Homo sapiens: one gene and its partners. The protein of the gene in region 3 purifies or fractionates together with the protein of the main gene of each other region. This does not show direct contact. Each region holds a gene or a part of one and is shown on either strand. Other genes may lie near its edges.

The links.
Region 1: the proteins of TOP1 (region 3) and TARDBP purify together in Homo sapiens (affinity purification with mass spectrometry; 2 studies listed by BioGRID and IntAct, with this or other methods). This does not show direct contact.
Region 2: the proteins of TOP1 (region 3) and HNRNPC purify together in Homo sapiens (affinity purification with mass spectrometry; 3 studies listed by BioGRID and IntAct, with this or other methods). This does not show direct contact.
Region 4: the proteins of TOP1 (region 3) and TOP2A purify together in Homo sapiens (co-immunoprecipitation; 4 studies listed by BioGRID and IntAct, with this or other methods). This does not show direct contact.

Annotation. Positions count from the first base shown.
Region 1 is NC_000001.11:11,008,223-11,015,676, forward strand, and holds the start of TARDBP (TAR DNA-binding protein 43), read left to right. Parts: upstream 1-4,431; 5' UTR 4,432-4,521; intron 4,522-5,493; 5' UTR 5,494-5,505; coding exon 5,506-5,743; intron 5,744-7,454. UniProt on the Homo sapiens protein: RNA-binding protein that is involved in various steps of RNA biogenesis and processing.
Region 2 is NC_000014.9:21,231,438-21,238,462, reverse strand, and holds part of HNRNPC (heterogeneous nuclear ribonucleoproteins C1/C2), read left to right. Parts: intron 1-2,002; exon of another isoform or gene 2,003-2,090; intron 2,091-4,233; 5' UTR 4,234-4,269; coding exon 4,270-4,510; intron 4,511-7,025. UniProt on the Homo sapiens protein: Binds pre-mRNA and nucleates the assembly of 40S hnRNP particles. Interacts with poly-U tracts in the 3'-UTR or 5'-UTR of mRNA and modulates the stability and the level of translation of bound mRNA molecules. Single HNRNPC tetramers bind 230-240 nucleotides.
Region 3 is NC_000020.11:41,031,809-41,038,833, reverse strand, and holds part of TOP1 (DNA topoisomerase 1), read right to left. Parts: intron 1-7,025. UniProt on the Homo sapiens protein: Releases the supercoiling and torsional tension of DNA introduced during the DNA replication and transcription by transiently cleaving and rejoining one strand of the DNA duplex.
Region 4 is NC_000017.11:40,393,877-40,400,901, reverse strand, and holds part of TOP2A (DNA topoisomerase 2-alpha), read left to right. Parts: coding exon 1-52; intron 53-238; coding exon 239-373; intron 374-492; coding exon 493-693; intron 694-834; coding exon 835-1,030; intron 1,031-1,770; coding exon 1,771-1,862; intron 1,863-1,964; coding exon 1,965-2,129; intron 2,130-2,260; coding exon 2,261-2,344; intron 2,345-4,436; coding exon 4,437-4,619; intron 4,620-5,362; coding exon 5,363-5,453; intron 5,454-7,025. UniProt on the Homo sapiens protein: Key decatenating enzyme that alters DNA topology by binding to two double-stranded DNA molecules, generating a double-stranded break in one of the strands, passing the intact strand through the broken strand, and religating the broken strand.

The DNA of each region.
Region 1 (7,454 bases), on a different chromosome or scaffold from region 3:
TCACTGCAACCTCCGCCTCCTGGTTTCAAGTGATTCTCCTGCTTCAGCCTCCCAAGTAGCTGAGATTAGAGGCATGCGCCACCACGCCCGGCTAATTTTGTATTTTTAGTAGAGACAGGGTTTCTCCATGTTGGTCAGGCTGAACCCGACCTCACATGATCCGCCCGCCTCGGCCTCCCAAAGTGCTGGGATTACAGGTGTGAGCCACCACTCCCGGCCCTAAAGTTACTTTTATTTAAATATCTTTATTGGCTGGGTGGTGGTATGTGCCTGTAATTCTAGCATGTGGGAATGCCAAGGTGAAAGGATCACTTGAGGCAAGGAATTCATAACCAGCCTAGGCAACATAATGAGACCCTGTCTTTACAAAAAAGTTTTTTTAATTAGCCAGATGTGGTGGTGCACACCTACATAAATAAATAAATAAATAAATAAATAAATAAATAAATAGGGCCGGGCACAGTGGCTCACGCCTGTAATCCCAGCACTTTGGGAGGCGGAGGCGGGCAGATCACGAGCTCAGGAGACTGAGACACGGTGAAACCCCGTCTCTACTAAAAATACAAAAAATTAGCCGGGCGTGGTGGCGGGCACCTGTAGTCCCAGCTACTTGGGAGGCTGAGGCAGGAGAATGGCGTGAACCCGGGAGGTGGAGCTTGCAGTGAGCCGAGATTGGGCCACTGCACTCCAGCCTGGGTGACAGAGCAAGACTCCGTCTCAAAAAATAAATAAATAAATAAATAAATCTATGTATCATTATTGCCCTAGTATTTCTTTCAGTTTTGTCTTTTTTTTTTTTTTCTTTTGAGACAGAGTTTCACTCTTGTTGCCCAGGCTGGAGTGCAATGGTGTGATCTTGGCTCACTGCAACCTCTGCCTCCCGGGTTCAAGCGATTCTCCTGTCTCAGCCTCTGGAGTAGCTGCGATTGCAGGTGCCTGCCACAATGCCCTGCTAATTTTTTGTATTTTTAGTAGAGACGGGGTTTCACAATGTTGGCCTTGAACTCCTGACCTCTGGTGATCCACCCACCTCGGCCTCCCAAAGTGCTGGGATTACAGGCGTGAGCCACCGCGCCCAGGCTTCTTTCAGTTTTCAGGAATGTTGTGGAGCTGTGTCCTGTTTGCCTCATGGAGCTGATGAGCTGGGAGAATTCAAGGGGGTTGATGGAAGGGGAGAAGGTAAGTCCCCAAGTGACCCAGTTGAAAACCAGGGCCTGGGCCAGGCACAGTGGCTCATGCCTGTAATCCCAGTACTTTGGGAGGCTGAGGCGGGAGGATTGCTTGAGGTCAGGAGTTGGAGACTAGCCTGGCCAACATGGTGAAACCTCGTCTCTACGAAAAATACAAAAATTAGCCAGGTGGGGTGGTACACGCCTGCAGTCCTAGCTACTTGGGAGGCTGAGGCAGGAAAATAGCTTGAACCCGGGAGGCAGAGGTTGCAGTGAGCTAAGATTGTGCCACTGCACTCCAGCCTGGGCGACAGAGCAAGACTCTGTCTTGAAAAAAAAAAATGTTGTGTTTCAAACAACTTTTGACAATCAGTGCTGTAAAGCTGAATCCCAGAGACAACTGAGATAGGAGCAGGAAGATCTGTGGTCCAGTCTCCCTCTGGCCTTATAATTATCTTCCTGAGTTACTTACCTTCTTTGAGACAGTGTTTGCTTGTCCTCCCAACTAGCCTGAAAACTTCTTAGGAGAAGGGCCAGCCTTTGGGGTCATGTTCCTGTGTGACCTGTCTCTAGGAACTTCTGCATACCCAGCTCTGCCCACTTGGAGCTAGTGTCCAGGACTCCACAGCACTACCCGCACTAAATACCTCGGTCTCAGTCTTGTGACAGAAAGTGGCCAGTGTGGTGGACATAGTGCAGAGGTTTAGGGTCTGACCAACCTGGGACAGCAATTTATGGGCTAGGTGACATCCTTGAGCAACTGTATGACCTCAGGCCTGTCATATGGTCTCTGAGCCTCAGGTTTTTCTTCTGTAAAATGGGAGTGATAAAACCGACTTCTCTGCTGGGTATGGTGGCTCACGCCTGTAATCCCAGCACTTTGGGAGGCTGAGGCAGATGGATCGCTTGAGCTCAGGAGTTGGAGGCCAGCTTGGGTAACATGTCAAGACCCTGTCTCTACAAAAAATATAAAAAATTGGCTGAGTGTGGTGGTGTGCACCTGTGGTCCAAGCTACTCCGGAGGCTAAGGTGAGAGGATCGTTTGACCCCTGGAGTTAGAGGTTGCAGTGAGCCGAGGTCACTGCACTGCACTCTAGCCTGGGTGACAGAGTGAGACCCCATCTTAAATAAATAAATAAAGTATTTTGTGTAAACACTTGTAACTGTATTTCATTGAGTGTGATACATGTATATACAAAGAAACATAAATAGTTGCCAGTTAAACTATGACACATCATCATCAACTGGAACTGGAACTGAAATCACATACTGACTTCAGCAATGTGAAACATTGGCCGGTCGCGGTGGCTCACGCCTGTAATCCCAGCACTTTGGGAGGCCGAGGCGGGCGGATCACGAGGTCAGGAGATTGAGACCATCCTGGCTAACACGGTGAAACCCCGTCTCTATTAAAAACACAAAAAAATTAGCCGGGCGTGGTGGCGGGCGCCTGTGGTCCCAGCTACTCAGTAGGCTGAGGCAGGAGAATAGAGTGAACCCGGGAGGCGGAGCGTGCAGTGAGCCGAGATAGCGCCACTGCAGTCCAGCCTGGGCAAAAGAGCGAGACTCCATCTCAAAAAAAAGAAAAAAGAAAAAAAAAAGAAATGTGAAACAAAGGCCGGGCGTGGTGGCACTTTGGGAGGCCGAGGTGGGCGGATCACCTGAGGTCAGGAGTTTGAGACCAGCCTGGCCAACAGGGGTTAAAAATACAAAAATTAGCCGGGCATGGTGGTGCATGCCTGTAGACCCAACTACTCAGGAGGCTGAGGCAGGAGAATTGCTTGAACCGGGGAGGCGGAGGTTGCAGTGAGCTGAGATTGTGCCACTGCACTCCACCTTAGGCAACAGAGGGAGTCTGAAAAAAAGGAAGAGAAAAGAAAGAGAGAGAGAGAGAAAGAGAGAGAGGTAGGGAGGAAGGAAGGTGGGAAGGGAGGGAAGGGGGGGAAAGGGAGGGAAGGGAGGAAAGGAAGGGAAGGAAAGGAAAGAAAGGAAAGAAAAGATAGAAAAGAAAGGTGGCTCGTGCCTGTAATCCCAGCACTTTGGGGAGCTGAGGCAGGCGGATCACTTGAGGCCATGAGTTCGAGATCAGCCTGGCCAACATGGCCAAACCCTGTCTCTACTAAAAATACAAAAATTAGCCGGGCATGGTGTCTTTGCACGCCTATAATCCCAGCTATCCCTTGAACCTAGGAGTTGGAAGTGGCAGTGAGCTGCAGATTGCGCCACTGCACTCCAGCCTGGGGGACAAGAGCGAGACTCCGTCTCAAAAAAAAAAAAAAAAAAAGTGAAACAAAAAGTGTGCCTTAAAATAGATGAAGTACTGTATTATTATTATTATTAAAGGGCTGGAGCCAGAACAAGTTAGCATTTTGTGCCTCGAGATTCAAATCCCAGGTCTACCATTTATTCCTTGGGTGACATTTTTTTGGGGGGAGGGGCTGGAGGACAGGGTCTCACTCTGTCGCCTAGACTGGAGTGAAGTGGCGCGATCTCGGCTCACCGCAACCTCCGCCTACCGCGTTCAAGCAATTCTCCTGCTTCAGGCTCCCGAGTAGATGGGACTACAGGCGCGCGCCACTACCGCCCGGCTAATCCTTGCGTCACTTTAAGCAAGACACTTGATCTCTCTGTGCCTCAGTTTCCTCACCCGCAGAATGAATATCAATAGCTCCTGCTACACAAAACTGTTTGGGCTATTAAATATGTGAATACTCAGAAAGTACCTGGCACAAAGTAGCCTTATCATTGCTATTATTTAGAACAAAGTTATTGTTTCCAGGTTTGGAGGTGGGCTGGCGGAGGGAGGAGAAGACGCACTAGGTTGCCTTTCAGAAAAGGGGTCCAGGCCTTATCCTGCCTCCCAGGTGGACTCGGCCCGGGATCCCGAGCCCCGCCCCCTCCAGGCCCCGCCCCGCCCCGCCCTCGCTGGCCGAGACTCTGTGCTACTCTCGCGCGCTTTGAAAGTGCGCGAGCTCCGACCGAGACCTGGGCCGGCGGTTGGTCGGCCGAAACCATCTGCTACGTTACGTGGGGGGAGGTCAGCTCCTATACAGCCACACTTTTTTCAATCTTCAGCTTTTCAGGCCTAGGTCCTGGTTTTATTTTAGCTTTCAGAGCTTCTCTGTAGGCTTGAATTTCCAGGAGGCAGCCCGAGTCCCTGGGGAGAGGGTCATCGTGGCTCTCGTCGGTGCCTTCCACCTCTGGACAGGCAACCGGTGGGAGAGGACGCCGGTGGGCGGGGGGAGGAGGCGGCCCTAGCGCCATTTTGTGGGAGCGAAGCGGTGGCTGGGCTGCGCTTGGGTCCGTCGCTGCTTCGGTGTCCCTGTCGGGCTTCCCAGCAGCGGCCTAGCGGGTGAGTCGCGGAGCCTTCTCACTGAGGACGCCGTAGGTGCCTCGGCTTCTGCATTGGGGCGGCCCGAGGCAGACGCAGCGGCTTCGGACCCTGCCCCGGGAAGTCAGCCGTGAGACCGGGCCTAGTCCTGCCCGAGCGGGCTCGCGCGGGAGCGTCGTTAGGTCCTGGCACGGGGAGGCCGGTGGCGCCGAAACGGGGGGCCGGGCCCGCGGTGCCGCGTAGCCTGAGGCGGAGGTTGGCCCCGGACCCGGACAGTGCCGGAGCCTTCGGTACTTTGTACTTCGAGGGACGCTGCCAGCTTGGGCCTGGTGCTCCTGCGCCCCACCCCGGGCCGCGCCGAGAAACTCCTCCCTCGGCTGGCACGCGCGGGCTTCTGGGAGGCGACGGCCGGCACCGCCAGGACCTGTCGCCGCGGGCCTTGGGGCTCGGGCTCGCAGAGCCCCCGGAAGCCCCAAAATGAGGAACAGAGGGAAACTTTTCTCCTGTTCTTTACACCTGGTTCACTGCCCATATTCAGTCTTCAGGTTCAGCTGATGGATCGCTTGCTTAGGAAAATCGACTGGGACCTATCACGCCCATGCCTCAGCCAGTTAGGCTCCTCCTCTGCCTTCAGGATTACTTAACGACTAACCCGATTGTCATAAAATAGCTACTGTTTATTGTTCCCTTGCATACCCTAGCTTGTAACCAGCAAGCCACGTTGGACTCACAGTTACAGTTTCAGTACCTGACGCATCATAAGCCTTCAGGGAAAGTTTTTTGAATGAATGAACTGGCGAGGCATCACATTTTGATAGGAAATCACTACCCTTACCTTCACCTCGTCATTTTTCAGGGATAACCAATGCATATACGAATCCAGACAAGCATTTTTCTGGAAGTCAGAACTCTGACATGGTTTGGGTATTATCATTATAAGGAAACAGTTATTCTGACATGAATGTTGTTCATTCATATCTCTTTTCTCTTTAGGAAAAGTAAAAGATGTCTGAATATATTCGGGTAACCGAAGATGAGAACGATGAGCCCATTGAAATACCATCGGAAGACGATGGGACGGTGCTGCTCTCCACGGTTACAGCCCAGTTTCCAGGGGCGTGTGGGCTTCGCTACAGGAATCCAGTGTCTCAGTGTATGAGAGGTGTCCGGCTGGTAGAAGGAATTCTGCATGCCCCAGATGCTGGCTGGGGAAATCTGGTGTATGTTGTCAACTATCCAAAAGGTTTGTTACCATTTGGTTTTTGTAATCATGCTGAAGTGTGTTCAGGTGTGTGTCTCATCCATGGATCTTAGCCTCTTTTGGTGGCAGAATGTCTCCTGAAACTTAAGTATTTCCTTGAACTTCAGTGTTAGACAAGTTTGGAAGACCACGAGTCTAAATTTATGGAAACTGGGGATTGTAGATCATTTTAAAAGAGAAAACAATGTATTTAAAAAATATCTGAATAAACTTTGCCAAGTTGATGATAAATTTCAGGAATCACTAAGAATGTTTTGTACATAAATCATTGTTGTAAATAGATTCTTCTGAAGTGCTTCAGTGTTTGGATTTGATCATTGTCCTTTTGGTGTTACATCATTCATTCAGCAAATCTGAGTTCATTTTTTCCCTTAAATGAGCAAACAGTTGGAGTAGCCAAATCTTGAATTAGTGCAGTTCCAATTACAATTTCGAGGTTCTGGTCTTATCCTTCTCTCTGCCTCTTATCAATGATGTTCTAAATCTAAGAAAAGGAAGCATGAAGTTTAAGAAGTGTGCCAAGGAAATACCTAATTTCAGCATTTTGAAGTAGTGTGCTGTTAGTAGTCGATCTGTCTGTGTGTTCCTTTTATTATAACTTGGTATTGCAACAAAGTCCATCAAATTTGGTCAGTATGCAAGACACCCTTTTACATGTCTAGGAAAACTTTAGGGCTAGGCACGGTGACTCATGCCTGTAATCCCAGCACTTTGGGAGGCCGAGGCAGGTGGATCACCTGAGATCAGGAGTTTGAGATGAGCCTGGCCAACATGATGAAACCCCATCTCTATCAAAAACACAAAATCTCTGGATGTGGTGGTGGGTGCCTGTAATACTAGCTACTCAGGAGGCAGACGCAGGAGAATCGCTTGAACCGGGAGGCAGAGGTTGCAGTGAGCAGAGATTGTGCCATTGCACTCCAGCCTGGGCAACAAGAGCGAAACTCCGTCTCAAAACAAAAAAAAACGAAAACAAAAATTGGCGTGGTGGCGGGGGCCTGTAGTCCCAGCTAGTCTGGAGGCTGAGGCAGGAGAATCGCTTGAACCTGGGAGGCGGAGATTACTTTAAGCTGAGGTCGCGCCGCTACACTCCAACCTGTGACAGAGCAAGACTTCGTCTCAAAAAAAAAAAAAATTGATAATGTAAACTCGGGGTTTTTAGTATGCTGTTTCTTCAGCCAGTGGGTATAGATTAATATTTACTCAAATTTAAAATGTCAGGCTCGGTGCAATGGCTCACACCTGTAATCCCAGCACTTTGGGAGGCTGAGGCAAGCAGATCACCTGAGGTCCGAAGTTCAAGACCACCCTAGCCAACATGGTGAAACCCTGTCTCTACTAAAAATTCAAAAATTAGCCAGGCGTGGTGGTTCGCGCCTGTAGTCTCAGTTATTTGGGAGGCTGAGGCAGGAGAATTGCTTGAACCGGGAGGTGGAGATTGCAGTAAGCTGAGATCGTGCCACTGCTCTCTGGCCTGGCAGCAGAGCGAGACACCGTCTCAAAAAAAATTTTTTAAATGTCATTTAATTTATCTCCCCAGGCTGGACATGGTGGCTCACATCTGTAATCCCAGCTACTCGGGAGGCTGAGGCAGGAGAATCACTTGAACCCGGGAGGCAGAGGTTGCAGAGAGGGGAGATTGCGCCACTGCACTCCAGCCTAGGTGACAGAATGAGACTCCGTCTCAAAAAAA
Region 2 (7,025 bases), on a different chromosome or scaffold from region 3:
TGAAAATGATTGTAAAGATTAATCACAAGCAGAGTACCCACAGAACATTTTAAGATATTTTGATGTGTTTCTGTACTGTCCGTTCTTAAATGATTTTTATGTAGTTCATTTATGTCTCCTATGTATTGTACGTTTTCAGATACTATTTTTTTGACTCAAATTATAATTTGCACATCACTTGAAGTTGTATTTTTAAAAGACTATTATTGCTGGACATTTATTACTATTGGGTTGTTAGTTGTTAGAACTCGGTTATAAAAATTCATATAGAATATGACCAAGTAATTTAGATCTGTATGAGGCAAAAAGCAAAAGTAGACCTATTCATTCTACAAGTGGTTTTTACACCTTCCAGATGTAAAGGGAGTAACAAGGCAAGAAAATGGGATCAGGGCCGAGTGCAGTGGCTTTCACCTGTAATCCCAGCACTTTGGGAGGCCGAGGCAGGCGGATCACCTGAGGTCAGAAGTTCAAGATCACCCTGACCAACATGGAGAAACCTGGTCTTTGCTAAAAATACAAAATTAGCCGGGCCTGGTGGCGCATGCCTGTAATCCCAGCTACTGGGGAGGCTGAGGCAGGAGAATCACTTGGAACAGGGAGGCGTAGGTTGCAGTGAGCCAAGATTGCTCCATTGCACTCCATCCTTGGCAACGAGTGAAACTCCAACTCAAAAAAATTAAAAAAAAAATGTGATCAAGGAGTTTGTTTTACTTATCTAAACTATTGTACTACTATAAAAGGATGCTGGCAACCTGTTACATGAAAGAACTGAGGGACTGTTCTTAGGATTTCTAACAACAGTCTGCGTAACATGTTAAAAGTGGTGCTCGAGAAACCACACCATACTACCTAGAGAGAAATGGTATTGTTTAAGCATCAATAACACCACAAAAAGGTATTGCCACTTGTAGGACGAGGTAGTCTTGACAAAATATTGCAGATGAAGCTGAGTAAGCCTTGGTCCCAGCTGCTGCTTTCAAGAGTTACAGAAGAATATGTGGAATTGTTCTGAGAGTATCAATCCTGGAAAATACAGACTGGGAAACTACAAGTTAATACTGTGGATTCTTAAACAGATAAATTTTAACCTAATGCAATAGAAGCGGAACTTACCTACAAAAATGCTTCAAATGCATCACGTTTATTTTTCTGGGAAGACTAGAATGTCTATAGTTATACATTTAGGCATTAGAATTATTTTAAAAGTGAGAAAGTGCTAGTAAAGTCATAATGGTTGTTACCTTTTGGTGAGAGGAAGGGGGATTGGCAGTGGAATCAACCACATAGGGTTTGTTTACTTATGAGACTTTACAGGGATGCAACTGCTCTTGCACCTTCACACATTTTTATTGAAGTCCCTTGTGCTCACCCACTATTGGAGCAGGTGAAACTTCTAAGTTTTAACTGCTTTTCTAAAATTTCGTTCCTGTTGCTTTTCAATAAATAACTGCTGGTTATTTTGGTATTCTTGTATTTCTAAGTCTATTATTCTCCAAGTTGCTTACCTTTTATTTCTCCCACAGTCAGTGAAACCATATATGCTGGCTTGCCTTTACTGCCTTGCATTTTGGAATTTTGATTTAAATGCTGTCTGTAGGATAGTGATTTTGCCATCTTGAGTCTTATTTTGGGAGTCAGAGATTCAAAAACTACTCTGCTCTTGCTGACCCCTTCCAAGAATCCCAGTTCTTTTCCAGTAGTTTCTTTGTGTTACAGTATCGTCCTCCCTTTATGGAAATTTCACCTGTATGATACTTTAAAATTTTGAAGTAGAATGAAGTGTGACTTGACATCATTTGGTTATTTCTAAAACTTCAGGAAATGTACCTCTTCCATAAAATTTGAAGTAGCAATACCACTGGAATTTAAGGAAGCTCTCAGGACAGTCTTTGTTACTATTTGTGCCCTGGATTTTCCCTGAAATGTGGTACTCAGCACATGGTTAGTAAATATTTGATCCCCAAAATGAATGAATTTGTAGTGACTGTTCATTCCTTAGGAGGACACGTTACTAAGAGTGGAATTAATCCGTATTGTGAGTACGTCTGTCTTTACTGTTGCCTCCATCTTGAATTTAAGTCCTCATAGTAAGTATGGGTATTTTATTAATTTTAGGCAAACTTTGGAAGTTGGGATTTTTGTATTTTAAAAATAAGTAGTTGATGATTTTTGTAGCAAATTTAATAACCAGACCATAAAGAAAATGAGAAATCATATCCTTAAACTCATAACAACCATTGCTAGCATCCTTGTATGCCTGGATGCTTTTCTACTGAGTTTTTCCTTTGTGGATCTTTGAGAGAATTAAGGCCTGATACACATGAAAAATGCCGTGGGGTATGAATTCCTTGCATCTTGATTAGTACTAGCTATGTACTCAGACTTGTGAAAATAATACTAGCTATGTACTCAGACTTGTGAAAATTGAGAAAATGGTCATTTAAATCCATTTCTGTCTTATTCCAAAGGGTACCCCTTTCAATCACATCTGTATTTTTCTGCAAATGTCCATTTGGAACATTGGACTGTGGTTTGATGGGTTTTTTCCCTTATGGTCAGTATTCTGTGTTGGCTTACGGAGCCCCTCACCCCTGGTAATTTCTTCTCATTAAACCTATGGAGATTATATTTTCTATTGATAAACCTATTTGTGAAAAATAGTTGCTTAAAACCAGATTATACCTCCACTTGTAATAATGGGAAATCTTAATAACCAGCAGTAGTATCTGAAACCAGTTAGGCCTCAATGCAGATTTTTGTTTTAATTCCTCTTTTTAGTGTCCTCAGACTTTCTGGCATACTTAATAGCTGAAAGGCTGTTGGTGGATTTCAGTGGCTACTGTTTGTTAATTTTTATTGCTTAGTGTTAAAATATTAAGAAGTTTTTGTAAAGATATACTTTAGAAAGTAACAAAGACAGACTTTTGAATTTCAGAAAGATTTGGAAGGAAGTGAAGTTTTGTTTGAGCTTTTAAATCAGTACTGCCTGTTAAATGACTGTATTAAGCATCAGAATGATAGGAGTCATGTATATATGAAATGGTGTTAAACTACCTGTTTTTATGTACATATATGTATACATTAGACTTTTTTACATCATCCGTGAGAACTAGTTTGTCATGATTCACTTGAGGATTGGAAGGATAACAAATACTGGAATCTTTTGAGATTTATCAGTACCTTTCAAAGGGATGAAGGGGAAATCAATCTTAAGAATGTTTTTAAATCTTGTTCAAGATTGGGGGTTGGAGTGGGAAGAGGCAGGAAACAAAATGCTAAAAGAATGAAATAAAACATTTTCGCTTTACGGGACCTGAGATGGTATTGTGAATCTGCATATGGTTATGGTAGGATTGAGCCTCCATCACATACATAAAGACAGATAATTTTTGGTTTTAAATAATGCGTGGAAAGTTGTGTATTTTTCTTTAATTCCCCAATCTTTAATTTGATTCATGCCGTGTTCCACTGGCTAGTTTTATCATCATCACCATCCGATATTATTAAATGTCCTATATTTTAGGTTATATAAAAAGTAGCCTTCGAGTCATTGCAGTCTGTAAAAAGATGGTATTGATACTTATGTATCTAAAGCATACTGCAGATTAATTGAAGTATCTGGAAATAGGTGTTTCCAGTGTAAATGAATTGATTCTATTTATTGCCTTTTGAAGAAAATTATACTTAATGGGTAAGTGTAAGCTATCCATATTAATCTAGCTAATGAATGGCTTGGGACAGAATTTGACGTTTGCTATGCTGTGTGTATATATACAGAACCGGTGAAACTCAATAAAAGCAACGTGAATCAAGATTATTGATGGCAGGGAATAGTTAGCATGACCTGTAATGTGAAAAACAGCAGAAACTGGTGTCAGAGAATTTAGGCAAATCTAATTTGCTTGAGTACTTAGAGGAGGGCCACTTGGAATTATGTCCAAGGAAATTATATTGCCAATGATCTGCCAGGGAGAATTTTTTTTTCCTGAGAATTTAGAGTTTAGTGCTGCTGAAATAGAATGGAAGAGGAAGAAGTTGACTTTCTAGAGTATATTCAGAGGCTGGAGTCTCTGAAATTATTAGCAAATACATACTTAATGCTGTGAGTCCCTTTAAGTTGCCTAATACTCTGGGCAGTTAACAGTGATTCAGAGTGAGAGTGGAGAATGTTTTATCAAGGAATATTGTTTTTAGCATCTGTTCACCTGTATACTTTTTTTTGCTTTACAGTTTTCGGCTTTGTGAGAAACCTTACCATCAAACACGATGGCCAGCAACGTTACCAACAAGACAGATCCTCGCTCCATGAACTCCCGTGTATTCATTGGGAATCTCAACACTCTTGTGGTCAAGAAATCTGATGTGGAGGCAATCTTTTCGAAGTATGGCAAAATTGTGGGCTGCTCTGTTCATAAGGGCTTTGCCTTCGTTCAGTATGTTAATGAGAGAAATGCCCGGGCTGCTGTAGCAGGAGAGGATGGCAGAATGATTGCTGGCCAGGTTTTAGGTAAGTGAATTTTTTCATTGATGATGTAATTCAGGCCTGAGTTTTTCTATTCACGTTTTTTTTTTGTCTTTATGTCTGTAAAACTGACAGCATGAGATATTCTGGATATTGCGACTGTTTAGCCTAATAAAAATACATTAGGCTTATAGTTATAATTGGCTAAGTAAAGGATATTCTTCATTGTACCATTTTGTGTAGTAGAGCTAGGACAACTCTACTACAATCGTGAGTAGGGGGAGCTGGGAATGACACTTCACAATGTAAAAACGTTGCCTAAATGGTTGTGTCCTGCCCACAGCAGACTGGAGGAGCCCTCTAGTGTTGATTGCTTGTCTCCCCATTGGGATTTCACTCCATCCGTTGGGCCGACTGCAGTTTGGCTCAGTGTTAGATTTTCTTGTATTTTAAAATGTAATGACACCTCAGAGTACTTACTACCTATGATTTGGTTTATTCAAGCCAGAATCCAGTGTCCACATGTTTATTTTATTAGTTGTACTAGATGTCTGTTTTAACTTCTCATTTTATGTGTACCTTGTGCCTCAGTTTCAAAATTATCATACCTTTGTTTTTACAAAGTTAAGATGATTATTTTTAAATTTATATTTGTGATTTAGTTTATTCTTTGTATACATTCTACTATGTATATTGACTCAAAGCATGGTAGGTTAGAGTTATGTGAAACAATTCTTTGATAATGTTATGTAACCAACCAGATACATAATTTGGGTCTATTTCATTGTTTTTACATCTTACTGGATTGCTTTTTCAGAAATTTAATTCTCTTTAGTTTTGAAACACTTTATATGGTTTCAAAGTCAGAATTGTAAATGAGGTTAATGTACCAAAACCTGAAGGTTATTCATGTAATGGTGTTCAGCAAATAGACAATATATTCAGTCCTTTTTTTTTTTTTGAGACAGAGTCTAGCTCTGTTGTCCAGGATTGTGTGCAGTAGTGCAGTCTTGGCTAATTGTAACCTCAGCCTCCCGGGTTCAAGCGATTGTCCTGTTTCAGCCTCCCGAGTAGCTGGTACTACAGGCATGTGCCACCACACCTGGCTAATTTTTGTATTTTTTAGTAGAGGTGAGGTTTCACCATGGTGGCCAGGCTGGTCTTCAACTCTTGACCTCAGGTGATCCTCCCGCTTTGGCCTCCCAAAGTGCTGGGATTACAGGCGTCAGCCATTGGACCTGGCCTGAGTCAGTTTTCAGTTGGTCATTTGATGAGCTGCTTTTGTATAAAAAGGGAAGATAAATAAGATTAAGTTTAAGATATCCACATTTGGCCAGGTTCGGTGGCTCATGCCTGTAATTCCAGCACTTTGGGAGGCTTGAGTTGGGCAGGCCATGAGGTCAGGAGATGGAGACCATCCTGGCTAACACCGTGAAAAGCCATCTCTATTAAAAAATAAAATTAGCAGGCTGTGGTTCTGGGTACCGGTAATCCCAGCCGCTCAGGAGGCTGAGGCAGGAGAATTGCTTGAACCCGGGAGGTGGAGGTTACAGTGAGCCGTGATTGCACTCCAGCCTGGGCAATGGGGCAAGACTCTGTCTAAAAAAATACCCACACTCATCTAGTTAATGGTTTGAGGTGGAATTTGGAATTTATATTTTGGGGCATTTGTATATTAAAATGAAGCTCATTTTAATAAAAGCAGTATATATGAAAATGGAGTTACTGTTGACTCGAGTGCTGTAGCATGACTGGGAAGGTAAACTGAATTTTAGAGAGTTTTTGGCTTTTTGACATGGGCTTTTTAGAACAAGGAGAAGATAAATTCTTGTTTGGTAGGCAGTGGGTGGCAGGGTAGGTAGCTGGGCATACGTGTTACAAATTGTATTTGAAAACCAGGGTTGTTTCCCTTTGCTCTTTTATTTTTTTTGGTGTGTGTAAAGGTTGTTTAAGCAATTGATCAATTATTCAGAAAGCAGTCGTTAACCCAGGATATTTTACGTGTAGAACAGCTAATCCTTACTTATAAAGAAAATCTGAAGTTGCCTTTGAGGATGATTTGAGGTTGTCACACTTCACTATGTTAATTTGTGAATTGGCATATATTTTAATATATTTCATTCTAATATATTTGTAATAATTCGGAATGAGCTGAACCATTCTTGGAAAGGCAACCAGTGATAGTTTTCTCTTGTAATAGTAACTGAGTGAACAGTCAGTACCTTGAATGGGGAGAGTTGAGTTGAAGTGGTATCTGAGGGTGGAGAGTACCAAAGACAGACTTAATGTTAGTCTCAGGAACACTTGAATGGTAAAGAACAGACTACAAAGAAACGGAAGATGAAGCCTTAGCCTTGTAAAAATTTGTGAGCCTTTTTAATATTAAAAGGAGAGATGAAGCTGAGCTTGATAGCTCACACCTGTGATTCCAGCACTTTGGGAGGTCAAGGCAGATCACGTGACCCCAAGAGTTCGTCCCTACGAAAAATAGAAAAATTAACCAGGCGTGGTGGTCCCTGCTACTTGGGTGGGAGGATCACCTGAGCTTCGGAGGTCTAGG
Region 3 (7,025 bases):
GTATTTTTTTTGTTGAGACAGGTTTTTCCCATGTTGCCCAGGCTGATCTTGAACTCCTGGGCTCAAGTGATCTGCCCATCTCGGCCTCCCAAAGTGCTGGGATTATAGGCATGAGCCTCCAGGCCTGCCCCAAAGATTTTTAATCCACAATTTAAGGTATGAGAAACAAACAAAGTGGTGTGTATGCAGCAAGCCTTGTCACTGGACAACTGAAGTTGCCGCAAAGTCAAAGCAAGTCAGTACCCTCCTGAGCCAGCCTTTCTATGATTTACAGCAATAGTATCATACTCAATGCTCCCTAGTGACCCCTCCAGCTTGGTTAAAATTTCACAATAGATATATGTGCAAATTTAAAGAAAGTAAAGATGTTCCCTTTGTACAAAAGCCTAATAAAGCAATTTCTGAAAAAGGTGTTGTTGTTGTTGTTTTTTAGCATTGGCAAGGAACTAAAAATTCTGTTCTAAGCTTCACCTTTCATAAAGTAATCCTCTCATGCTCTTTAATCCTCAATGTTGTAAGGTAAGTATTAAACCTACTTTATAGGTGAAGAACTAAGGCTCTGATATTAACTTGTTCAAAGACCTAGCCATTGAGCAGAAGCTCAAGAACTCGAATTTAAATTCCCTTTAAGTCTCTATTATGGGGTGGTGGGGATGTAGAGGGGGTTGGAGGCCGGGAGACTATTCGCATTCTGTATCAGAGGAAAACGAAAGAAAAAGAGACCAAAGCTTTGAAGACTTTTAAATCCAACCCTATTGTGGGCACATTCCTTGTATACTGAGGGCAATGGAGCTACAGAGCATTAACAAATACTCATCTTCCCAGATTTTTTTCCCCATATTTTATGAGCTATATTTTTCCTGATATGTTTATCTTTGAAGACTCTTTAAAATTAGGCCCTATTCCATAATTTCTATACAACAAAATTATGTCCTCCTGCCTACTTTTAATTGAATTTAAGTCTGCGCCTGTTGTGATGCTTCTGTGATAATCCTTTTGCTGAATGGCGTAAGATCTCTACTAAGATCCATTTGGCTTAAACCTAATGAACACTAGTGAACACATCCTTAAATGACTTTTGTTTATTTCCTTTAAGTAACACTTCCAAAAAAACAAATTCAAGGCAATTCAATATTCAGCATTAGCTAGACTTATGAGCCATTACTGAAATTTCTACTGACTTTATCAAATTTTTTCATGGAATCTCCCAAATGCCTATACTCACGCATAACTGTTAACACGGCATTTGGTACTAAATTCTCACACATAAGCTTTATTATATTATTTAAGGTATTCTTATTCCCAAGAATTACTATTTCAAAGAAAACCAAGTTGGTCACTTTAAGCAACTATTTGAATAAATGAAAAACTGAAGTAATTCTCAGGTGCTTTGAGAGTTCTCTGTTTAATTTAAAAACGTTTTGGGGGAGAAGTAAAATAGTGGCCTTTGAAAAAATATGCTGACACAAGACATATTGAATTTTGTGGTTTTAAAAAATTAACAAATAATGAACTTGGCATTTTATTAAATGCATCGAAAAGGGTCAAGTTATTTTTAATAGAAAATCCATAATTCTATTAAATGGTTGAGAAATTAGTCACATCAATAGACTTCTTTCATTTCTGAGCCCATCTTCTGTACTGCTACAAGTTCCTTTGGCAATGACCACTTTGCTGTAAACATTCTTAGAAAAGTAGGAATTAGGCTTGGCGCGGTGGCTCATGCATGTAATCCCAGCACTTTGGGAGGCCGAGGCTGGTGGATCACGAGGTCAGGAGATCGAGACCATCCTGGCTAACACGGTGAAACCCTGTATCTACTAAAAATACAAAAAATTAGCCAGGCGTGGTGGCGGGCGCCTGTAGTCCCAGCAACTTAGGAGGCTAAGGCAGGAGAATGGCGTGAACCTGGGAGGCGGAGCTTGCAGTGAGCCGAGATTGCGCCACTGCACTCCAGCCTGGGTAACAGAGTGAGACTCCATCTCAAAAAAAAAAAAAAAAGAAAAGTAGGAACTAGATATACAATTGGATCCTTCTCAGCCCAAACCTAGATATGAAGACACCTTTTACTTTACAGTGACCGCTTTGTAACTGGAAGACATCAGTGTAGGCTCTGCTGATTCAATTAGGTAAAGACTCAACAACACTAGTTACATGTTACAATTCACTGTGTAAATGTCAAGAAGATTTAAAACTTTAACAGGGAATACCAATGAAAGACAGACTCCCCAACATCAATCACTATTTCAAACCTAACATTCAAAATAAAGATCCAGTTGAGAATAGAGGCTGTCTCATCAAAGTTTACATTTTACAATGAGGACAGAGAGGCACCTTCATATACTTATCTAATTCTCAACAGTTTGTGAAACATAAATATTATCCTTGCTTATGGATAAGAAAACAAGGTTCAGTGGTCAGATCATGTTTCATAGGAAGAACAGGGACTTATCTCGATTTTTCGGAATCCTACACCAATTTTCTATTTTACCACAGCTGTCTCCTCACACCCCCACTCTTCCCCTAGACCTAACATTCCACATACAAAGGGTCCAAGCTATCTCTAACAGCAGATAATCAAGGGCAGGTTCTGACATCTGTACTAGAAGCTTACCAATTACAGCCTGAGTGGGGTTTCCAGAATCTGGACCAAGGCAGCATGTTATCAAAAAGGGGACATGAAAAGGCATAAAGGGTAAAAAGAAAAAAACGTTTCCTTTCCTGGTCTCTGGTTCTCCCCATAAGCCTATGCAATCTATATTATCTTTATTCAATTCAGATTTAATGCACATAAAAATGTGGTGCCTAATAAGTTTTCAAAATTAGTTCCCTTCATCCCACTTCTGCTGCTTGGCAAGAGCTCACATAGTCAACTACAAGGAAACAAAGGGGCTACCTTACTGGAGTCAGGTTAAGTAAAAGGTCTTAGCCAATGAGATCCACAAATGACAATGATCCTGAAGCCTCCTAGATTAGTCTCCTGCACAATCAGTAATATACCTACAAAGCTTTATAAATCTGGGCATTCATACATATATGATAGCAAGATTAACATTTGGACTTCTACTAAGGGGAAAAAGGGTGTATTATTCTGGTGGAGGACTAACCTTCAACAAAGAACTTTTTTTCTATAAACTCCAATAGCCAAGAAAAGTCCTAGGCATCTATCTTTGCTAGCGTGTGCTAAGAAAAACAATATAAAGAATAATGGGACCACAAGCTGGCTGGGTCGGTTTCGTTCTTAAAATATAGGAAAACGTCAGAATACCCAGGGATCTGTTAAATTCTTTTCCCAACATCATCATTTACAACAACAAATACAGGAGATCTGAAGTCCCTAAAAATACTGATTGCTTTAACATCTTTTGTTGGAGCTTACCTAGGTGTTTCTTAGGAATGCTAATGAACTGTGTTCTTTAGGCTCCTTGAATCCACAGAAACAAAAATGTTAATTTCAAAGGCTCAGAGGGGAATTAATTGCCTGGTAGAGATGCCTCCCCACCCCAAATCTGATGGGAAGGGTAGAAGGGAGATGGTAAATTAAAACATTTATTACACATTTCAGAAAAATTTAGCAGACAGGTAAGTGAGTGAAACTAGAAGCTTAAGACAACAAATGAAAAATGAATACCTACCAAAAAGAAATTAAGGGTCAGGCACAGTGGCTCATGCCCAGCACTTTGAGAGGCTGAGGTGGGCAGGCTGCTTGAGCCCAGGGGTTCAAGACCAGCCTGGGCAACATGGCGAGAAACCTCGTCTCTACAAAAAATGCAAAAATTAGCCCGGCGTGGTGACATGCACCTGTAGTTCCAGCTACTTGGGAGGGTGAGGTAGGAGGATCGCTTGAGCCCAGGAGGCAGAGGTTGCAGTGAGCTGCAATCACACTACTGCGCTCCAGCCCGGGCAACAAACAGAAACCCTGTCTGCCCCCCACCCCGCCCAAAAAAAAAGTAAAGGAAAGAAGTTAAAATTAAAAGTTGCCTACCTTCCTTGGAATTTCTTTCTTACTAAACGTTAAGAGACATAAATGACACACATAAAGACAGTTAATACAAACTTCGATACAGATAGCCAAAGTTGATATTACGATCTATATACTCCAGAGATATGCATGAGATACCAGTAACATCACTTCTCTCCCAGTGTGAAAAATATCTAGGATCTTTCCTATACACACAGAAAATGTTCAACAATATCTATTTACTATTAAATCATTTCAGCAAACTATCAGCCATTTCTCATAACGCCACCAAAATACCATCAATATCTAACAGACATTCCTCTACAAGCTTCCCCGCAACCCCCAATCAAACTTTGTCCACCCTGCCCTCATTTACATCCCTCTCCACCCTTCCCAGGCCCTATGCTATCAACACAGCACATACTGTCCACATCTAGATAGGCAGGTGGCAGGGAGGGTGGGGGTTGGCAAAATGCTAATTATTCCAACCCTGGCCTCTATTTTAGATTTTCTACTGCAGCTATTGGCCTGGAGCCATGGGGATGGAAAGCTGCTGCTCAAACTTGAGATGTATGAGGCATGGAAATAGGGAGAAAAGACAGTTCCAAATATTACTACTCGAAGTTTAAACACAATCTGAAAGCTTCCTTTAAACACAATACCCATTCGCCTCTTAAGGACTAGTTTGGAAGTCTCTAAACTTTTTACCTTAAGAAATCCATGTGTCAACTGTTTGCCTAAATGCCCTTATTATCCAAAGTTAATGGTTTCAAAATAATTAAGGGATAGTCAGATAATCTAAACCATACAACACAGAAAATTCACTCAACTGACTCTCACCTCCACATCCAATATATTTTACTATTCTTTCAATAGGGTTTTTTTTTTTAAACCTCCAGGTCCAATGTCAAAATACTCATTTCAAACATTTCCACAGCTTCATTCAAACTAATTACATTTGAATTCATTTTCCCAAGCAAACACAGTTTACTGGAGTTCGACACAGTTTCACATGGGAAAGATGCAATCCCTCACAAAACACACTTCTGAGGAAACGACTTTGGATTTGAAGAATATCAGTTTTACTTTGCACTAAAAAGATGGCAAAAGGCAAAAGTTGATAATGATGTGTCATATAAATATGCATTCATGTCCAACTAATATGAAATAACATGGTTTTAGTATAATCTGAAACTTCTAAAATGATATGTATTCAGAAAGCACAACAGAATCATTTTCCATACCATTAGCAGCAGGGACAACTGTTACTATATAATTAATATACAACAAAGCTGTATATTAGAAGGCAAACATTTTTTTGCACCTCCCCACCCCACACATGCACTGAAAACAAGCAAAACAAAAAAACCTCACAGCCCAATTTTGGAATATAAACTTTAAGACATGTTATTTAATAATCTGAACAAACTAATGAATGTCTTTCCAACTCTCTCAATTCCCCATCTTTATGCTGACAGCAAGGGGAAAAAGTCAGACTCAATTCCTTTTTTTTTTTTTTTTTTTTGCTGCTATTGGTTAAAATGAGATTTGGGGACTGACCTTGGTTTCCTATTTTCCATTTTACTCTATCTACTGAACCAAAGAAAAGCAGGAGTTGGTGACCGTTACTGCTAGCTATATTATTTAGTTTGCACCTTTCAAGCCACAACGTATTTCTGATTCTTTTAGTGATGCCTGGATTTTCTTGTTTTTACTAGAAACATCCAATCCGAGCCTAAAATTTGTTTGTGAGATCTGATATGCTGGTAAACTAAAAAAACACATATTGACAAGCAACTTTCTTTTATGTCAAAGCATAGTATAAAAATCCTAGCGGCTCACTAATTCTAAAAAGGTGCCTCAAGGAGTCCAGTTGCAATGTAAGGGAAGAAAACCACCCTGGAGCATAATGCTTAAGTATTTCCTGATTGAGTCTGAGGATGCTGCAGATTTCATTTGGCGGTACCATCACTTTTCAGTTTTAAAAATGTAGTGGCAATTTTCAGATAGCCACATCATCAGCTATCTGAAATTCCCCCACCGCAATCAGCTATGCTACCGCCCATCCCAACCCATACCCAACAGACAGAAGTACAACTATCTATTAGCATCAGAAACAATTCATATTTAATTACCTTCATCCAATTTGATTCCATTAAGCCAACCAGAATCAGCACAAGATGATGTCAAACCATGATCCTATATATCACTTCTTAGACTAAAGACTGATGGAGCCAAGTATTGTGCTTTGCTAAGGGGGTCAAATGGGGGAGAACTCCCTATCTCCATAGCAGACAGGCAAAAACTTCAAGACCTCTGAAACAGCAGAAGAATCGCTAACACTTTAACCTGGTATTACCATTATCAATTCTACAGATAGCTACGCAGCCTGTACAGTACTGTAATAATGACTCAGCCCCACTACAGTTAGTTCTACCAATACTTAGGAAGTCTTTTCACTTAGACTTAGATATGGTTTCTGCTCCAAATTCCTAACTCACTGTCAACATTTTAAATATAAATAACAGAGTCTCCCAGCAGTTGAGTATGGGTCAGAATGTTCTAAATTACATGCAAAGAGCTACAATTTTAAATATTGCGAAGAATGAGCTCCAAAGTGGGGGGACGGGGGGGAATCTTTTATATCTTAGGGGATGAGGGCAGGCAAAATGAGAGACGTTTGATTTTAATATATGAACTTGTACAGTTAATCTGTAAGATGGGTTAGGCCCTCTTAAAATCACGCTTAAACAATCTCTTAATACAAAGTTCAATAATGACATGTCTGGGCATAATTAAACATTGATTTCTACTTTTTTTAAAGTTTTTTTCATAGTTACATAAATCAATCACTGGTTAACAATGTATTACTTGAGATAGCAAGCATAGTTACCAACACCACATCTTCCAGACAATATTCACAAAGAATAATTACACCAATGTCAGAACTTTATGGTGGCAGATTCTCTTCAAAAAGCATGTTTAGATAAAAAGCAAATGACAAATTATCAAATCCTTCCTTCTCTCCTTTTTCAGCTCTGTAAGAAAATAGAGATTTGTGGCT
Region 4 (7,025 bases), on a different chromosome or scaffold from region 3:
AATTGTAAATAACATCAGGCGTTTGATGGATGGAGAAGAACCTTTGCCAATGGTAAGTATTCTGTGTGTGTTAAGAGCCTTAACTTTTCCTTGGGTTTCAGTTGAATAGATTGTATGATTAAAGATGATGCAAACATAAAATTTAATTTCATACTTTAGATTTATTGTTAAACGCTGTTGTGATTTCCGTCTAGTATCACATTTAGAAAACATACTGTTTTTTTAAATGCCAATTTAGCTTCCAAGTTACAAGAACTTCAAGGGTACTATTGAAGAACTGGCTCCAAATCAATATGTGATTAGTGGTGAAGTAGCTATTCTTAATTCTACAACCATTGAAATCTCAGAGCTTCCCGTCAGAACATGGACCCAGGTAAATAATTATGGATTTCTTTTTTAGGTTTGTGATCAAAAGAAATACCTTTTGTACTATTGCTGTTGACTATTCAGAAGCCTATATTTTAGAAACTTCAGGATTATTTCTTTCTTTAGACATACAAAGAACAAGTTCTAGAACCCATGTTGAATGGCACCGAGAAGACACCTCCTCTCATAACAGACTATAGGGAATACCATACAGATACCACTGTGAAATTTGTTGTGAAGATGACTGAAGAAAAACTGGCAGAGGCAGAGAGAGTTGGACTACACAAAGTCTTCAAACTCCAAACTAGTCTCACATGCAACTCTATGGTATGTATTTGTTTTGTGAGATGTACACGTTTCAATTTATATTAAAGATTAATATCAATTTTAAAAGTATATCTTAGTCTACCTTTATAAAGTTTAGCCAATTTGTCTATTCTTGGCTCTAATCTTGTTTTCCTTTTTCAGGTGCTTTTTGACCACGTAGGCTGTTTAAAGAAATATGACACGGTGTTGGATATTCTAAGAGACTTTTTTGAACTCAGACTTAAATATTATGGATTAAGAAAAGAATGGCTCCTAGGAATGCTTGGTGCTGAATCTGCTAAACTGAATAATCAGGCTCGCTTTATCTTAGAGAAAATAGATGGCAAAATAATCATTGGTATGTTTTGGGAATAATAACTGCTTACTAAAACTCTAGTTACGCCAAACTTTCTTTAAACATTTTTGGTGAGAGTAATGGTGGAGAAAGAGGCAAAATCCATTTAATTCACCTGGTCACTTATACACGCATTTCTTTAAAATATCTGATTAGGTATTTATAGTTTGAAAGAGATGATGTTTCCTTGACTGAGCATCTTGAGAAATCAAGATTTAGTTGACAATTAGACATGAGGAGAATAGAGAGCTAGAAGACCTTGCATAAACTGATTGACCAAGAGAATAGATACACTAATCATGTCTACAGGAACAGAAAATAAAAGAGACAGAGAAGAGATAATAAATCTGATGGTAAAAAAAAAAAAAGGCAGGAAGATTACGAATGGCTTCTACTCTCTGGGTGTGGTGGCGCATGCCTGTAATCTCAGCACTTGAGCTGGGGAGGTCAAGGCTGCAGTGAGCCTAGGTAGTGCCACTGCACTCCAGCCTGGACACAAGAGTGAGAGAGACCCTGTCTCCAAAAAAAAATGATTTGATCATATATGATTTGACTGCCCCCTTGTGGTAATTTACATTTGTCAATGGTTTAGGGAGACTTGCCTGTATACCGGGATATACAAATTTATGCAAGCACGAAGACAGTTTAATTTCCAGTTTTAAACTTTTGACTTGTGTAAAACCTTATCCCCTTCCTAAAATATTACTCAAAATCATTATCTCTGTTTACTTTTTTAAAAATAGAAAATAAGCCTAAGAAAGAATTAATTAAAGTTCTGATTCAGAGGGGATATGATTCGGATCCTGTGAAGGCCTGGAAAGAAGCCCAGCAAAAGGTAATCTTGGGTGGCACTTTTCTATATTGTTAAAGACTATGTATTGTACAATGTTTATGTTTCACATTTTCTAATAAAGCTAGATTTTAATTAATCCTTTAGGTTCCAGATGAAGAAGAAAATGAAGAGAGTGACAACGAAAAGGAAACTGAAAAGAGTGACTCCGTAACAGATTCTGGACCAACCTTCAACTATCTTCTTGATATGCCCCTTTGGTATTTAACCAAGGAAAAGAAAGATGAACTCTGCAGGCTAAGAAATGAAAAAGTGAGTTGATAGTAGGATGGTACATGCTGCTTAGTTTTGTTCTATTCTAATGGTAAAAGTAAAATTGTGTGTTGCATGAAAATGCTGCTTGTATACATATATTAACTCAATTTTGTAATTATCTTATGAAGGAACAAGAGCTGGACACATTAAAAAGAAAGAGTCCATCAGATTTGTGGAAAGAAGACTTGGCTACATTTATTGAAGAATTGGAGGTATGTAGTTTATAATGCCCATGTTAGAATTTTTATTAATGAAATAATATATTCCAGCAGTATACCTTTGTCAAGATAGTTCACAATTGGCAATAAAAAGAAAATAAGAGGCATAAGGATAAATTCCAAATAGCGTATAAAAGAACAGATTATTGGCCAGGTGCAGTGGCTCACGCTGGTAATCCCAGCATTTTGGAAGGCTGAGTTGGGTGGATCACTTGAGGTCAGGGGTTCAAGACCAGCCTGGCCAACATGGTAAAACCCCATTTCTACTAAAAACACAAAAATTAGCCAGGCATGATGGTGCATACCAGTTACTCAGGAGGCTGAGGCAGGAGAATTGCTTGAACCGAGAGGCAGAGGTTGCAGTGAACCGAGATCACACCACTGCACTCCAGCCTAGGCAACACAGCAAGACTCCGTCTCAAAAAAAAAAAAAAAAAAAAAGGGACAGATTATTAAATACTACTTAGAATACAAGGCCGGGTGCGGTGGCTCACACCTACAATCCCAGCACTTTGGGAGGCCGAAGCAGGCAGATCACCTGAGGTTGGGAGTTCGAGACCAGCCTGACCAACATGGAGAAACCCTGTCTCTACTAAAATTGCAAAATTAGCCAGGCGTAGTGGCACATGCCTGTAATCCCAGCTACTTGGGAGGCTGAGGCAGGAGAATCACTTGAACTCGGGAGGCAGATGTTGCTGTGAGCTAAGATCACACCATTGCACTCCAGCCTGGGCAACAAGAGTGGAACTCCGTCTCAAAAAAAAAAAAAAAAATACTATTTAGAATACAGTAAATGATACCAGGAGACTGCCCAGACATTCAGACATTTCTGGACAAAAAAAGAAAAGAGCAGGAGTTGATTTTTGATAAAGGGAAGAACATATTAGGACTGAGAAGATAAAAAGAGCCTAAATGTGGAAGAAGACCACCAACCCAGTCCCCCAAGTCAACTTAAAAGGACAAAGCCACAGGGCATGGTGGCTCATGCCTGTAATCCCAGCACTCTGGGAGGCTGAGGTGGGCAGATCACTTGAGGTCAGGAGTTCGAGACCAGCCTGGACAACATGGTGAAACCCTGTCTCTACTAAAAATACAAAAATTAGTTGGGTGTGGTGGCATCCGCCTGTAATCCCAGCTACTCAGGAGGTTGAGGCAAGAAAATTGCTTGAACCCAGAAGGCAGAAGTTGCAGTGAGCCGAGATTGCGCCACTGTACTCCAGCCTGGGTGACAGAGCAAGACTCCATCTAAAAAAAAAAAAAAAAAAAGGAGAAAGCAGGGCTATCCAGATGGTTTCAGAAGGTTATTTGTTACTTAAATCTTCCTAATAACATTTGTTTCTCAACATTATTTTAACATAAGAAAAAAGGCCAGCACTGTGGCTCACACCTGTAATCCCAATGTGCTTTGGGAGGCTGAGGCAGGAGGATCACTTGAGATTAGGAGTTCAAAACCAGCTTGGGTAACGTAGCAAGACCTCATCTCTACAAAATGTTTTTTTTAAATAGCCAGGCATGGTGGTGTGGGCCTATAGTCTCAGCTACTCCGGAGGCCAAGGTGGGAGGATCACTTGAGACCAGGAGTTCAAGGCTGCAGTGAACTATGATCATGTACCATTGTACTCAGCCTGCGTGTCTCTTAAAAAAAAAAAAACAAAAAAAAAACCACCAAAAGCTTTATTTCTTAAATTTAACATGCAAATTTGTATTACTGCACTTCAGTATAGATGCCTAGCTCATTGTAATCAGTTGGTTGGATAAGTGTGCATCACTTCCTTTCATATTTTGTATGTGAGTTTACAAATATATATGTATATACATGTTTTATTTTTAGTTTCTCCCTTGTTTTCCTCAAAAAGGTTAAGTGGTAGAATCAGGAATAAAACCCAGTCCTTCTGTCTCCACACCTTCCTTTTCAAGGTGTGTTTTAATTACATCTTCACTATTGTTGATAGTATACTAGGTTATGGAGCAATTTATCACTAGTTTTTAAGATGTAACAAAATGAAATCAGTTTAACTGTTGGGTGTTTAGATATTGTAATGTTTTTGTTAACATTTAAACTTGCTTTCTTATATCCCTTCTGTAGGCTGTTGAAGCCAAGGAAAAACAAGATGAACAAGTCGGACTTCCTGGGAAAGGGGGGAAGGCCAAGGGGAAAAAAACACAAATGGCTGAAGTTTTGCCTTCTCCGCGTGGTCAAAGAGTCATTCCACGAATAACCATAGAAATGAAAGCAGAGGCAGAAAAGAAAAATAAAAAGAAAATTAAGGTAATACTCTTGTGGTGGCTCACACCTATAATCCCAGCACTTTGGGGGCCAAGGTGGGTGGATCACTTGAGGTCAGTGGTTCAAGACCAGCCTCCCAACATGGTTGAAACCCTGTCTCTACTAAAAATTAAAAAAATTAGGCGGGCATGGTGGCAGGCGCCTGTAATCCCAGCTACTCGGGAGACTGAGGCAGAAGAATCGCTTGAACCCGGGAGGCAGAGGTTGCAGTGAGCCAAGGTCACACCACTGCACTCCAGCCTGGCCAACAGAGCAAAACTCCATCTCAAAAAAAAAAAAGAGGTAATACTCTTAAAAATATTATGCATAAAATATTGATGCATATGTCCACTTAAAATTGAAAAAAAAATGTATAAAATTTTTTTGTTGTTGTTGTTGAGATGGAGTCTCGCTGTGTTACCCAGGCTGGAGTGCAATGGCAGGATCTCAGCTCACAGCAACCTCCGCCTCCCGTATTCAAGCGATTCTCGTGCCTCAGCCTCCCAAGTAGTTGGGGGCACATCACCACACCCAGCTAATTTTTGTATTTTTAGTAGAGATGGGGTTTCACCATCTTGGCCAGGCTGGTCTCGAACTCCTGACCTCAAGAGATCTGCCCACCACGGCCTCCCAAAGTGCTGGGATTACAGGCGTGAGCCACCGCTCCCAGCCAAAAATGTATAAAATCTCTAATCCCATAGTTCAGAATTTATTCTATATCCAACCCTAACTTTGCTATCTTTTAGAATGAAAATACTGAAGGAAGCCCTCAAGAAGATGGTGTGGAACTAGAAGGCCTAAAACAAAGATTAGAAAAGAAACAGAAAAGAGAACCAGGTATTACAACATTTTTAGAAAAATGGTATAAAGTGAAGATTAAATTGTGTTTGTTACCTAGTACATTCCACATAGATGTTCAAAACCTTTTTGTTGAATTGAGAAACGTGAAAGAGGACTGTATCTCAATTCTACTTGGACCTCTTTTTTTTTTTTTTTTTTTTTTTGAGACAGTTTCACTCTTGTTGCCCAGGCTGGAGTGCAATAGCACAATCTCGGCTCACTGCAATCTTCACCTCCTGGGTTCAAGCGATTCTCCTGCCTCAGCTTCCTGAGTAGCTGGGATTATAGGTGCATGCCACCACGCCTGGCTGCTTTTTGTATTTTTAGTAGAGACGGGGTTTCACCATGTTAGTCAGGCTGGTCTCAAACTCCTGACCTTGTGATTTGCCCGCCTTGGCCTCCCAAAGTGCTGGGATTACAGGCGTGAGCCACTGCCCCTGGCCTGGACCTCTTTAATATCGTCCTTGGGATTTGATTCATTATAGAAAATATTTTGTAATGAAGTAGTTTGTTAATTTGAATTCCTTAATTGGGATCTAAGAAAATACCCAGTTTATTAGATTTCATTTTCTAGCCACTTACGAGGTTCTAGTATACAAAGTTTCTTAAGAAAAGTGACTACATATTAGTAATGTTTGTAGTATCTCTAGAGTTCAACATCATGCTTCGGATATAAATAATGTCCACTCAATGAACTAAATAGAATTAATAATTCTGTTAATCATTTGATAATGCCTTTACTGTCTACTTTTTTTGAAACATCTTTATTGAGATATTCACATGCCAAATTTGCCCATTTAACGTATACCATTTGGCTGGGCGCCATGGCTTATGCCTGTAATCCCAGCACTTTGGGAGGCTGAGGCTGGCGGATCACTTGAGGTCAGGAGTTCAAGACCACCCTGGCCAACATGGTGAAACCCCATCTCTACTAAAAATACAAAAATTAGTTGAGTGTGGTGGTGCGTGCCTGTAGTCCCAGCTACTCGAGAGGCTGAGGCACGAGTGTCGCTTGAACCCAGGAGGCAGAGGTTGCAGAGAGCCAAGACTGTGCCATTGCACTCCAGCCTGGGTGACAGAGCAAGACTCCAACTCAAAAATAAAAATAAAGTATGCCATTCAGTGGTTTTAGTATAGACAAACAGTTTTAATACAATTTATTGCCCCCCAAGAAAACTGAACTCATTAACAATCATTTGCCATTTGCCACCAACTCCTCTCCACTGGGTGACCACTAAAAAATCTAGGGGCATTTCCTATAAATTAAATCATATAATATGTGGTCTTTTGGAGCTGACTTCTTTACTTAACACATTTTCAAGGGTAACCCATGTGGCAGCCCATATATTAGTACTTCATTCTTTTTTTTTTTTTTTTTTTGAGGCAGAGTTTCGCTCTGTCGCCCAGGCTGGCATGCAGTATGCAGTAGTAGTGAGATCTCGGCTCACTGCAACCTCCGCCTGCTAGGTTCAGGCAATTCTCCTGCCTCAGCCTCCCGAGGAGCTGGGATTACAGGCACGCACCACCATGCCCAAATAATTTTTGTATTTTTAGTAGAAACAGGGTTTC